Linked DNA regions of Homo sapiens: region 2 is linked to region 1. Evidence: fine-mapped expression QTL. Tissue or cell type: vagina. Region 1 holds a variant in brackets; the other region holds the start of a gene. All regions are shown on one strand. Distances are between the middles of the regions.

Evidence for each region. PIP is the estimated chance that this variant, and not a neighbour inherited with it, causes the effect.
Region 2: HPGD starts here. The variant in region 1 is fine-mapped to the expression of HPGD in vagina (GTEx, PIP above 0.99).

Annotation. Positions count from the first base shown.
Region 1 is chr4:174,080,730-174,085,881 of GRCh38, reverse strand. All of the region lies in intron 1 of LOC107986204 (a long non-coding RNA gene), which reads left to right. Among named protein-coding and RNA genes, the nearest start is that of LINC02268, 140 kb to the left of the region's middle. The variant C/T (reference allele first, on the strand shown) is at 2,977.
Region 2 is chr4:174,520,016-174,525,167 of GRCh38, reverse strand. HPGD (15-hydroxyprostaglandin dehydrogenase) reads left to right here and starts at 2,680. Exons shown (of 7, transcript NM_000860.6): 1 at 2,680-2,809; 2 at 3,101-3,224. The coding sequence starts at 2,717. LOC105377548 (a long non-coding RNA gene) reads right to left here and starts at 2,555. Exons shown (of 7, transcript XR_007058492.1): 1 at 2,039-2,555; 2 at 1,747-1,783.

The DNA.
Region 1 (5,152 bases):
TGGTCAACTTAATATCTGCATGTTTGTTAAATTTCTGAATACTGTGTAATTAAATTGATTTTTTTGTGATGGTGATTAGCGCATACCAAAAATCCAATGAAACAATTATTTCTCTCTTCTTAACTGGAGATCATATTTGTGAGCTATGGTATCCATTATCAACAGTGTATTCATGATTCCATTCATATTTTGTGTATCTGATTATAAATTTCATATGGCATTTAATTTGACACAATATAAATCCATTTGAATTGACTATAATGGTGTGTGTGTGCATGTGTGTGTGTGTCTATGGTGTATGTGTGCGCTTTAGTTTCATGAGCCTTGGGAAAATGATTCTATAAATATATAGATATAAATGTATCAGGCTAATTTTTTTGCAAAGCAATGTATGCATTCCTTTCACTTATTAAATCACTGGCTTTAGTGTTTATGTAGAGATATCTGTAGACCTCAGAACAGAATTAAAACATTGTGAAAATTATAGCTTGATAAATGTGTACTGTAAAAATAAATCTAATTTGTTGACTACACATTACAACACTGTGTTAAGAATGCTGAGGGAGAAAAATAATTTTAAGATGTAGTTTCTACTGTCTAAGAAGTTTAGTGTCAAGGTGGAGGTAGAAAGAATACAATTATAAAAATAAGTAAAAGCATGATACTCTAAGATGTGGCGCAGGCAATGCACAGCTTTTTGGATAAGGAGTCAGCTGAGAAAAGGCCCCGAGGGAGGTAAGTTTGAAATGTTCTGTGTAGATAAGGGATGAGCTACCTTGAAATTTGCAAAGGTTACAGGTAGATATGTCAGGTAATGTGAAATTGTAAGGAGTTAGCAATTTATTCTATGAGAACAATATTCCATTGAAGGTGTATTAGTAGGGAGTAGTTTGATCACAGGGCTATTTTAGGATGATAATTTTAGGACAAATTTTGTAGGAAGTTGATTGGAGCAGTAATTCTCAAAATGATTTTTTCCCTGAACTTGAGGAGTTGTTACACTCTGATCAGTTAACCGTGGTTTATGGCAGGATGATTGTCATGGGGAATGGTGGCTTCTTGCTGAATGTTGAAATCACTGACATAGAGGAAGAAGAGATTTCCTTTAATAGTAAGCATTCCAGTTCAGGAAGGAAGTGATGAGGCACTTAACTATGGGGTGAGAATAATGGGAAAACTGGAATAAAGGATGGATATGAGTCAGTTGAAAGGGGAATCTAAAGGAATAACTCTGAAGTCTGGAAATAGTATATGAGATGAAATGAACACTTGAAAATTATAGTGATGAGTGGACAAGTAGAAATTGTTATATGTGTTCAATGATTGATAATCTTGTTCCTTTGACACACTAAATGCTCTCACACATTTTGTGCCACTTAAAGAACCATATAGTAGCTTGTGATGGTACCTTCATTGACTTGTCCTGCAAGAATCATATTCCTCACCACAAAATTCTACAGCTTCGACTCTAAGAATCAATCGCTGTTATTGAGTGCCCACTCCTTATCCTAATGCTGGATTCAGGAAATACTGAGAAGAAATCTCAAAAATCTGGATGGGGACATAAGACATTTACTTTTACAAATGTCGAGCATCGTATAATAAGCAGAAAAGCACCTGTTCAGAAGAGGATGCGCTTTAAGTACAGGTTGCCAGTGAGAATAACATAGACTAGGGAGCAAACATTTGAGGGAGGCTTATAGCCACAAAGGTGAGACCAGAATCTTCTCAATTTGCCCGGATTGAGAGCAGTGAATACCACACTGTGAATTTTAATCTACAGCTAAAGATGTATCGTTTTCCAAAAAGGGAATATAGCGATAAAGACCTTCTTGAAAAATAATTTTGCAGTGAAGTGCAGAGTAGACTTTACTGGGAAGCAGTAGGAGATGGTGAGATGGTAAGGATGCATCTGCCACAGTTGTGTAACAGTCATGTGTATATGGTATATATCAATATCCTGGACCTGCCTTGGCTTCAAGGCAGCTCAAATGTGTGGGCCTGGGCCTGTGAGGTGTCTAGCAAGGTCTTGGTTTAGATGATGGCCAGAAGTTCAGCCTAATTGAGTGCAATCATGACAGCTGGGAACCATTCTGACACATTCAAGCTTAAGCTGAGATTTAGGAAGCTCAATCCCTAATTCAGATAGCACGTCCTTGAATGTTGCTGACCCTTCCTGAAACAAAACATGCAAGATAAAATTTCTTAGCTTTTTATAGAGCTTAGCATGTAGTGATTTCAATCCCAAGTGAAAATTATAATATTGATAAAGGCTTTTCCTAGGAAATATATTTTATGAAACTGATAAGTAAGTGTTGGAATTCAACTAGCCTAACCCTTCAGATGATTGCATAATTTTCTTCCAATGCACTTCCAAAGCTTTTTTATTATGGCAAGTTTGCACACAAAAGTAGACAGAACAGCAGAATGAGTATCTATGAATCAATTGCATAATTCCAATGCTATCATTTTGTCAAACTTATTTCACCTATCCCCTTACTTTTGTCGAAAGGGAGGGCTTTTTTTTTTCACAAAACAAATTTCAAACATCATATTATTTCATCTAAAAACACTCCAGGCAGGAAAAACCCACTATTCTTTCACTTTACTTATCATATTTTAAAATAAGCACCTTAGGAATAATAAATCTTTGCCTATTGTATAAGTAAGATTTTCAAAATTGTATTATGATTTGTTTTTTACTTTGCTTGTGCTTTTATTTTTGTCATGCAAAACTTTCAGGTATGAATGTATATATGGGTGTATTTATCTATATGTATTTATATTAACATTTATCCATCTTTTCCCTTACTGATTCTAGATTTTGAATCATAATTGTGAATGTTGTCCCCTTTCTCAGGCCATAAAGGAGTTAGCCCATGTTTTCTTCTTGTACTAGTATGGTTTCATATTCTACATTTGAATATAATTAGTTTGGATTTTATCTGGTGAGAAAAAGATACAGTTCTAAGTACT[C/T]GCATATGACCATGCACTTGATGATTGAGACCCTTAGACAGTCTTCTTTTTCTCAGATTCATCTAAGTCTACAGAATCTTTATTCCTGCTACTTCTCCTTTGCTTATCTTCAGTCACTGTGTGATATGGTTTGGGTCTGTGTCCCTGTCAAATCTCATGTTAAATTGTAAACCCCAATGTGGGAGATGGGGCTTGATGGGAGGTGATTGGCTCATGGGAGCAGGTTTCCTCTTTGGTGCTGTTCTGGTGATAGTGAATGAGTTATTTCAAGATCTGGTTGTTTAAAAGTATGTAGCACCTCCCTCCACCTTTGTTGCTCCTGCACTGCCTATATGAAGAGATGCCTGCTTCCCCTTCACCTTCCTCCATGATTGTAAGTTTCCTGAGGCTTCCCCAGCCATGCTTCCTGTACAGCCTGCAGAACCATGAGCCAATTAAACCTCTTTTCTTCATAAATTACCCAGTTTCAGGTATTTCTTTATAGCAGTGCAAAAGTGAGCTAATGAGGCTGGGCGTGGTGGCTCATGCCCGTAATCCCAGCACTTTGGGAGGCAGAGGCCGGTGGATAACTTGAAACCAGGAGTTGGAGACCAGCCTTGCCAACACATTGAAACCCCATCTCTATAAAAGATACAAAAATCAGCCAGGCATGGTTGTGCATGCCTGTAGGCCCAGCTACTTGGGAGGCTGAGGCAGAGAATTGCTTGAACCCAGGAAGTAGAGGTTGCAGTGAGCTGAGATCACCACTACACTCCAGCCTCCTAGACAAAGTGAGACTGTTTCTCAAAAAAACAAAAAATGAACTAATGATACAGAGACAAATAGTTATATTGTTGACCTCCAAAGAGCTTATAACCCACGTGGGGTTATAGGCCATTAGGCAGACAATTGCAATATAATCTATAAGGCCCTAGAGTAGTGTTATGTATGGACTACTCCATGAGTATATGAATTAAACCTAGATGGCAGAAAGTGAGGAAAGGCTTTTAGGAGGACATTCAATCTCCATGATTTTTTAAAGGTTAAATGTGGGAATCAACTAGAGAAAGTGGTGTTGGGGCCATGGGAGAAGACTGGTTTCCTGCCTGAGGAAGCAGCACATGTAAAGATAGCATCCAGAGGCAGAATAATGTCTTCAGAGAGTGCCAGCAGTTTGTTTTAACTGTAGAGAACACAGAACTCAAGACATGATAACAGATTATTTTTATGGAATGTGTACTATGTGTGTGCCAGACACTGGACTAAGGGCTTTATAAGCATTACCTCTTTTAATCCCAACCATATTAATGCAACACTAATATTACATTAATTATTTTACAGAAGGAAAAATTGAGAAGCAGGGACATAAAGTGAATTCCCAGAACCACATCTGGTGTTAGAGCCAAGATTTGTACCTAGACTGTCTGGCTTTAGGGCCCAAGTTCTTGATGGCTCCACTGTATTGCCAGATTATGAATAGCCTTGAAGAATATAGTGGATCATCAAACGGTTTTCAGCAGAACAATGACATATTTATACTATTAGAAGATGCCTCTGGATGCAGAGTGGAGAATGTATTAAAGAGGCATCAGTGGGTGTGTGGAGCTCGCTTAGGAGCTTAATGGAACCTGAATGAGAAATGTGAATTCAAGAGTTGACCTAAGTGGTAACAATGGGGATGGAGACACATGGATGGAGATATTAAATAGCTAAGACTTCTCCACTAGGTGTTTATGGGTTGACTGGGAAAAAACCCTCTGGCTTGGGCAGCTGGCTGGATGGGGCGCATTAATTCTGAATGTTAACTGATGATACTCTATAGAAAAAGCCAGAACGTAAGATATTTGGTATCGTGATAAACAGATTACACTGTTGTATGATCTGTATATGATCATTTGGGCAGCAATGTAGCTCTGTTCATTATAATATATTAATGTTTAGTGCATACATCTATCAGGTAATACTGTTTATTTTGGCCTGAGACATGTTACCCAACAGTTACTTAATAATAGAACATACATGGCAATGACCAAACACAAATGTTCATTGGAATTCCACAGGTTGCTGAGGCTGTCTTTCACAGTTCCAATCTTCTAACACCTTTTAAGTTTGTTATCTCCAATAGTATCTGATCCTCGAAGATATCCAGGGAAGCTTGTTGGGGATTAATTTTGTAGAATTAGAAGTGCCACTCTTT
Region 2 (5,152 bases), 440 kb before region 1:
AATATGCTAATAATCAAATATCCTGATTTTGTCACTATACATTGTATACATGTATTGATATATCACTCCGTACATATATATCACTCTGTATATATAGATCACATAAATATGCACAGTTATTCCATGTCAACTAAAAAGGGAAAAAATCCTTCCTTACAAAGATCACTGTTTGGTAAGCAGTTTAATTCACTGTAATAAAAGCATCTCACAATGCGAAAAAAAGTGGGGGGCGTATTTGGAGGTAATGAGAAGCTAACTGCTGTTTGCTATCATAGGAGAAAATATGAATCTGGACAGTGGCAGTGGAAATTGAGAGGAGGGAAAGGGATGAAGGGGTACTAAGTTTTCTCTAGACCTCAGTCCTTGCTATCTACTAAAAAAACCTATTCTTCACATTTTTCTCTATCTCACATTTATTATTCATTAATATTTCAGAAGTAATATGTTGGGACTAATATTAATGTATTAATACTTTGTGGCAGGCTCTGTAATAGTGTTTAATATGCTTCACCTATTTTAATTTTCACCTTTTTTTTTTTTTTTAGAAAAGCTTACTTTATAATAAGGAATCTGAGACCCAGAGTTGAAGCAAATTGCCCAAGGTTACACAGCTGGTCAGTAGCAGACACAAGATCCAAACCCGGTTTGTCTGAATCCAGTGCTGACGTCCTTGTGCCTCACCTATCCGCCACCGCCAAACTGCTTCCTGTTCTTCCAGTTGTCACTATCCTTGACTCATTGCACTTTGACCTCAATCAATCTTCTTATCTTTTCTTAAAAGAAAAACATGTTTGCTGTCTAATCTTTTCAACTATTATCCAGTCCATTTCTCTTTCCATGTAACCTTGGTCTTCAGTCCATGACAATATCTATCTTCTCACAGATCATTTCAGCTGTTCAGTTTTTGTGCCTTCTAAATTTACTCACACTAAATATTGTCCTGAAAAATTCAAAATATTTCTCCATCCTTTATTCCCTGGTGCTCACCTGAGTATTTTGCATTATTAACTACTTCTTTCTTCTTGAAAGTATTTCTCCCACAAGAGCTGCAAACCTGTGTTCTCCCAGCATGTTGCCATTTTACCCCAGCAGTTCCTTTTCTGTCTTTTTTGCCAGTTCCTTCATCAGAAACTTCTATGTTCTGTGCATGCCATTAGAGGAGCTGAAGTTTTGTTTGGTTCCTTGTTTTCTTTTTGTCTTCTACTATTATTCCCTTTCAATATGACCCCTCAATTTACTCTTCATATTACAATTTTAATTATCATCCTAGAGTACAAATATCTATTTTCCTGTTTTAATTTCTCAAGATTTTGTCAAGACCTAATTTCAAATTAATGTTAAAGACATTTGCTTAGCGGCTTACCAACAACGCGACAAGACACATTTTACACAGTCTCCTCATACACTCCTTCCCTGCTGAGCCAGCCACCTTTCCCAGTAAAGAAGGTAAAGAAGATATAAAAATGATTCATTCTGCTGTTAGTGTCAGTCTTTTGCTCAACTCCCATTTCCCCCAAGTATTTAGATTTTTTTTTTCTTTAAGAAAATAAATGCCAGCTGGGCATAGTGGCTCATGCCTGTAATCTTAGCACTCTTTGGGAGTCCAAGGTGGGAGGGTCGCTTGAGCCCTGGAGATTGAGGTTGCAGCGAGCTGGGATTATGCCACTGCATTCTAGCCAAACAGACAGAGCGAGATCTTGTCTCAAGATTAAAAAAAAAAAAAAAAAAAAAAAGCCAACCACTTACGTTTACAGAATTAAAATTGCAGCCTGCCGCTGACAACCTGAGAAAAAGAGACAAAGTCAGTGGAATAGCCCTTGTTATTTATGCAAGTCCGCATACAGCTAGCCCTGGAGTTCCTGGAGAGCAAGGAACCTCTGTCCCAAACTTGACTCAGAGCTTCCAAAGTTGGTGTATTTCAACAAGTAAGCATTCCATTGAGCCAACAATTTGGTAGGCTACCAGCGGCTCTGGAGCGCCTGTTGATGATGACAGTTTTTGTGGGGGCATCTCAATATGACACACAATTGACACTGACCAGAAACACAGCGCCAAGGACACTCTAGTCCTAGCCATGAAATGTTATGATTCCAGGTTTTCAGGACAGAGCAGAGTCCACTTCTCATCTCCAGTATCCGTAAAAATTTGTCCAAAATGTAACTAAGAAAACACAATGATATTAGTTACTTCTGCTCCCCGTCACCCTCAACCCCACTGATTACGAGATGGGAACTCACACAAAACTTTGAGACAAAAGAGCAACAAGTTTGCTTTATTGTTTGCTTGTTTTGTTCCGGAGTCGGGGCCGGGAGGGAGTGCAGGAGGAGGGATCCAAGCTTCCAAGCCTCTGCTCCGCTCTCCTTCTATCCAGTTGGTCTTTAGGGCACTGAAGGAAACTCTTCTTCAGAAATAACCTTTTAACTTTTCTTCTGTCAGCTGCCTGCCAATCACGGAGCCAGAGGCTGAGGGGAGGCTTTGAGCCGGTCTGCGAGTCCGGAAGGCAAAGATCGCGAAGCTTGGCGCTCCAGAACGCTCAGGGGGCAGGTGACACAGTCGTGGGTTCCCCGGCGGGCGCTGGCTTGACAGTTTCCTCCCCGCCCACTGGCAGGGGAGCGCCCCGCCGGGCTGCACGCGCGCGCGCGCAGGGGGGCATAAAAGCCGCGGCCGCGCGGAGACGCGGAGCTCGCCCACCGCCCGCCCCAGCAGTGGCTGCACCATGCACGTGAACGGCAAAGTGGCGCTGGTGACCGGCGCGGCTCAGGGCATAGGCAGAGCCTTTGCAGAGGCGCTGCTGCTTAAGGGCGCCAAGGTAAGCCCGGCGCCCAGCCGCGGAAATTTCTCTGCCCACACACTCCGAGACTCGCCCCGCCGCCCGAGGTGCACTGGCGGAGACAGGGAGGCCGCGCCCGGCGTGCCCACTTTGCCACTTCCAAAATTTGCTGAAGCTGAGGCTGTGAGCACACCTCAGAAGTGGCTGGGAGGGAACCCAAACCTAATTGCCAAATTTCAGGTCCAGGAGGGGAGCCTCTTGTGTGTTTATTGTTTGTCCGTCTATTTCGTGAGCTGCGCAGGCCCGCGATTCCTCTCCTCTTGTCTATAGGTAGCGCTGGTGGATTGGAATCTTGAAGCAGGTGTACAGTGTAAAGCTGCCCTGGATGAGCAGTTTGAACCTCAGAAGACTCTGTTCATCCAGTGCGATGTGGCTGACCAGCAACAACTGAGAGGTAAGACAGGGGAATCAATCTGTCAACTGGGAACGTGCTCTCAACAAGCAACAACCTGAAGGCAGCCCGGCCAGGGGGCCCTGGGTGCCGCCTCCGCTGCCTCCTCGAGAGCAGCTACCTTGAAGCTCCAAAAGACAGTTTGGACTGATACGTTTCCTTCTGACAGCCCAATAGCTGTAAAACCGAAAGAAAGGCAAGACTGCTGGAGAAATCCTTTTATTGTAGTCATTTGGCAGCATTAATGTAATCAAAATTCCTTTATGTATTCAAAGACAGTGCTGCTGCAGTAATTATTAAATGATTGAAATTGCAGACAAAACTTGGAAAATTAAAGTAGGTTAAGTAAGGTACTGTTGACAAACAACTTCTCCCAGAAAGCTGGAGTCCAATGACAATCAAATGTGGCAGTGTTTTTCGTTTAAACATATCAGAATACAAGTTCAAGGAGCATCATCACAGAAGTGCTAGATGCTTTTGACCATATGTTTTCTCCGGCTTTTTCCCCAATGAGACAGTACTTTAAAATAATAATAATAGTAATCATAATAAAGTATACAATGTTAGAATTGTAGTAGAAACATCTCTATCAGCCTTTCCTCAATGCTTTCCTGTTTCCGGCTACTCACTTAAAATAGACCAATCTACTTGTGAAGTATCAGGGACAATATTGGCATACACAATAAACAGCTTTGATTATAAAGCTGTTTTTTTTTTTTTTGTACATCTATTGGAGAACTTGAGAGTGCCCCAATAAACTTACAGGAAACAAAAATTCTGGAGAAAAACTAGAAAAGTAAAATATTTGTATTTCACAAAGTTTTATTCAAAGAGACTGAGTAAATTGTAAGGCACTTTTTAATCAAGGGGTCTGAAAACTTTTGCAAATCTTATTCCAGTGCTCCTGTTCTTAAAGGGACATCAAATGTACATTTATTTTAAAATTTTAAAATATTCTGTAAGAGAATGAAAATGAACTGACGTGTTAGAAGGAAGTGGTGTACCAACAGTTAAGAGAAATTGTAAAGGAAATTACATAACTGAAATCTGAAAATGCTAATAAAGACCTATAACACAGATGACAAGCATGAGCAGAACAGATTTGTAAACACAATGCAAGAGGAACATATTGTACCAGAGGACAATTATGTTGATTGCACATGATATTTTGGATCAAGGATAGAGCCAGGTCAGATCTCAACATTCATGCTGATGGCATAAGGAACAGTATAAACAATCTGAAAGCCATTTCTGTCTCAATTTATATAGTTTCATAAATGACATTTAACTACAATTGTTTTTTTCCCAGTATTTAAAATTAATACCTTGGCTATAAACTCATTCCTTAAGGATAAATGATTGTGGAGGAGGAAAAATACTCAGACACATAAGTGACCCGGGAAGGCATGTTGGTCATGAGAAATCCACATGTTGTCTGGACATGAGCATTTGCTTGCATCTAAAGGAAACATGACATTGATTCTTCCAGTTTCAGGATTTAATGTTGCCTATAACTTTTAAAATTGTTTAGACAGTGTGGAAATTATAAAAATATGAGATGAAAAGTTTCTTGGAGATAATCTAAACATAACTTATTTTCCAAATGAACAAATCACAGCCAAGAGAGTTTAGGTAAGTTACAAAGAGTACCATAGCATATAAATGTCAGCAAGAGGTAGACTGTCTGTTGCTTGAGCCTGGAATTCAATGGGATGTCAGAAAACAAGATGGTATACTATACATTGGTAAGGGCAGAGTATAAGGAATACGGTGGAGAACAGAATGAGGAAAGAAAATTAAAGCGGCAATTAGACATACATATTTAACACCCTCATTTTCCAAAAGGTGAAGGTTGTTTCTGTGGAGTTATGAAGAGTTAGAACATACTCAGAATGGAAGGAGAAAAAAAAAATACTGGGGGACATTTTCTG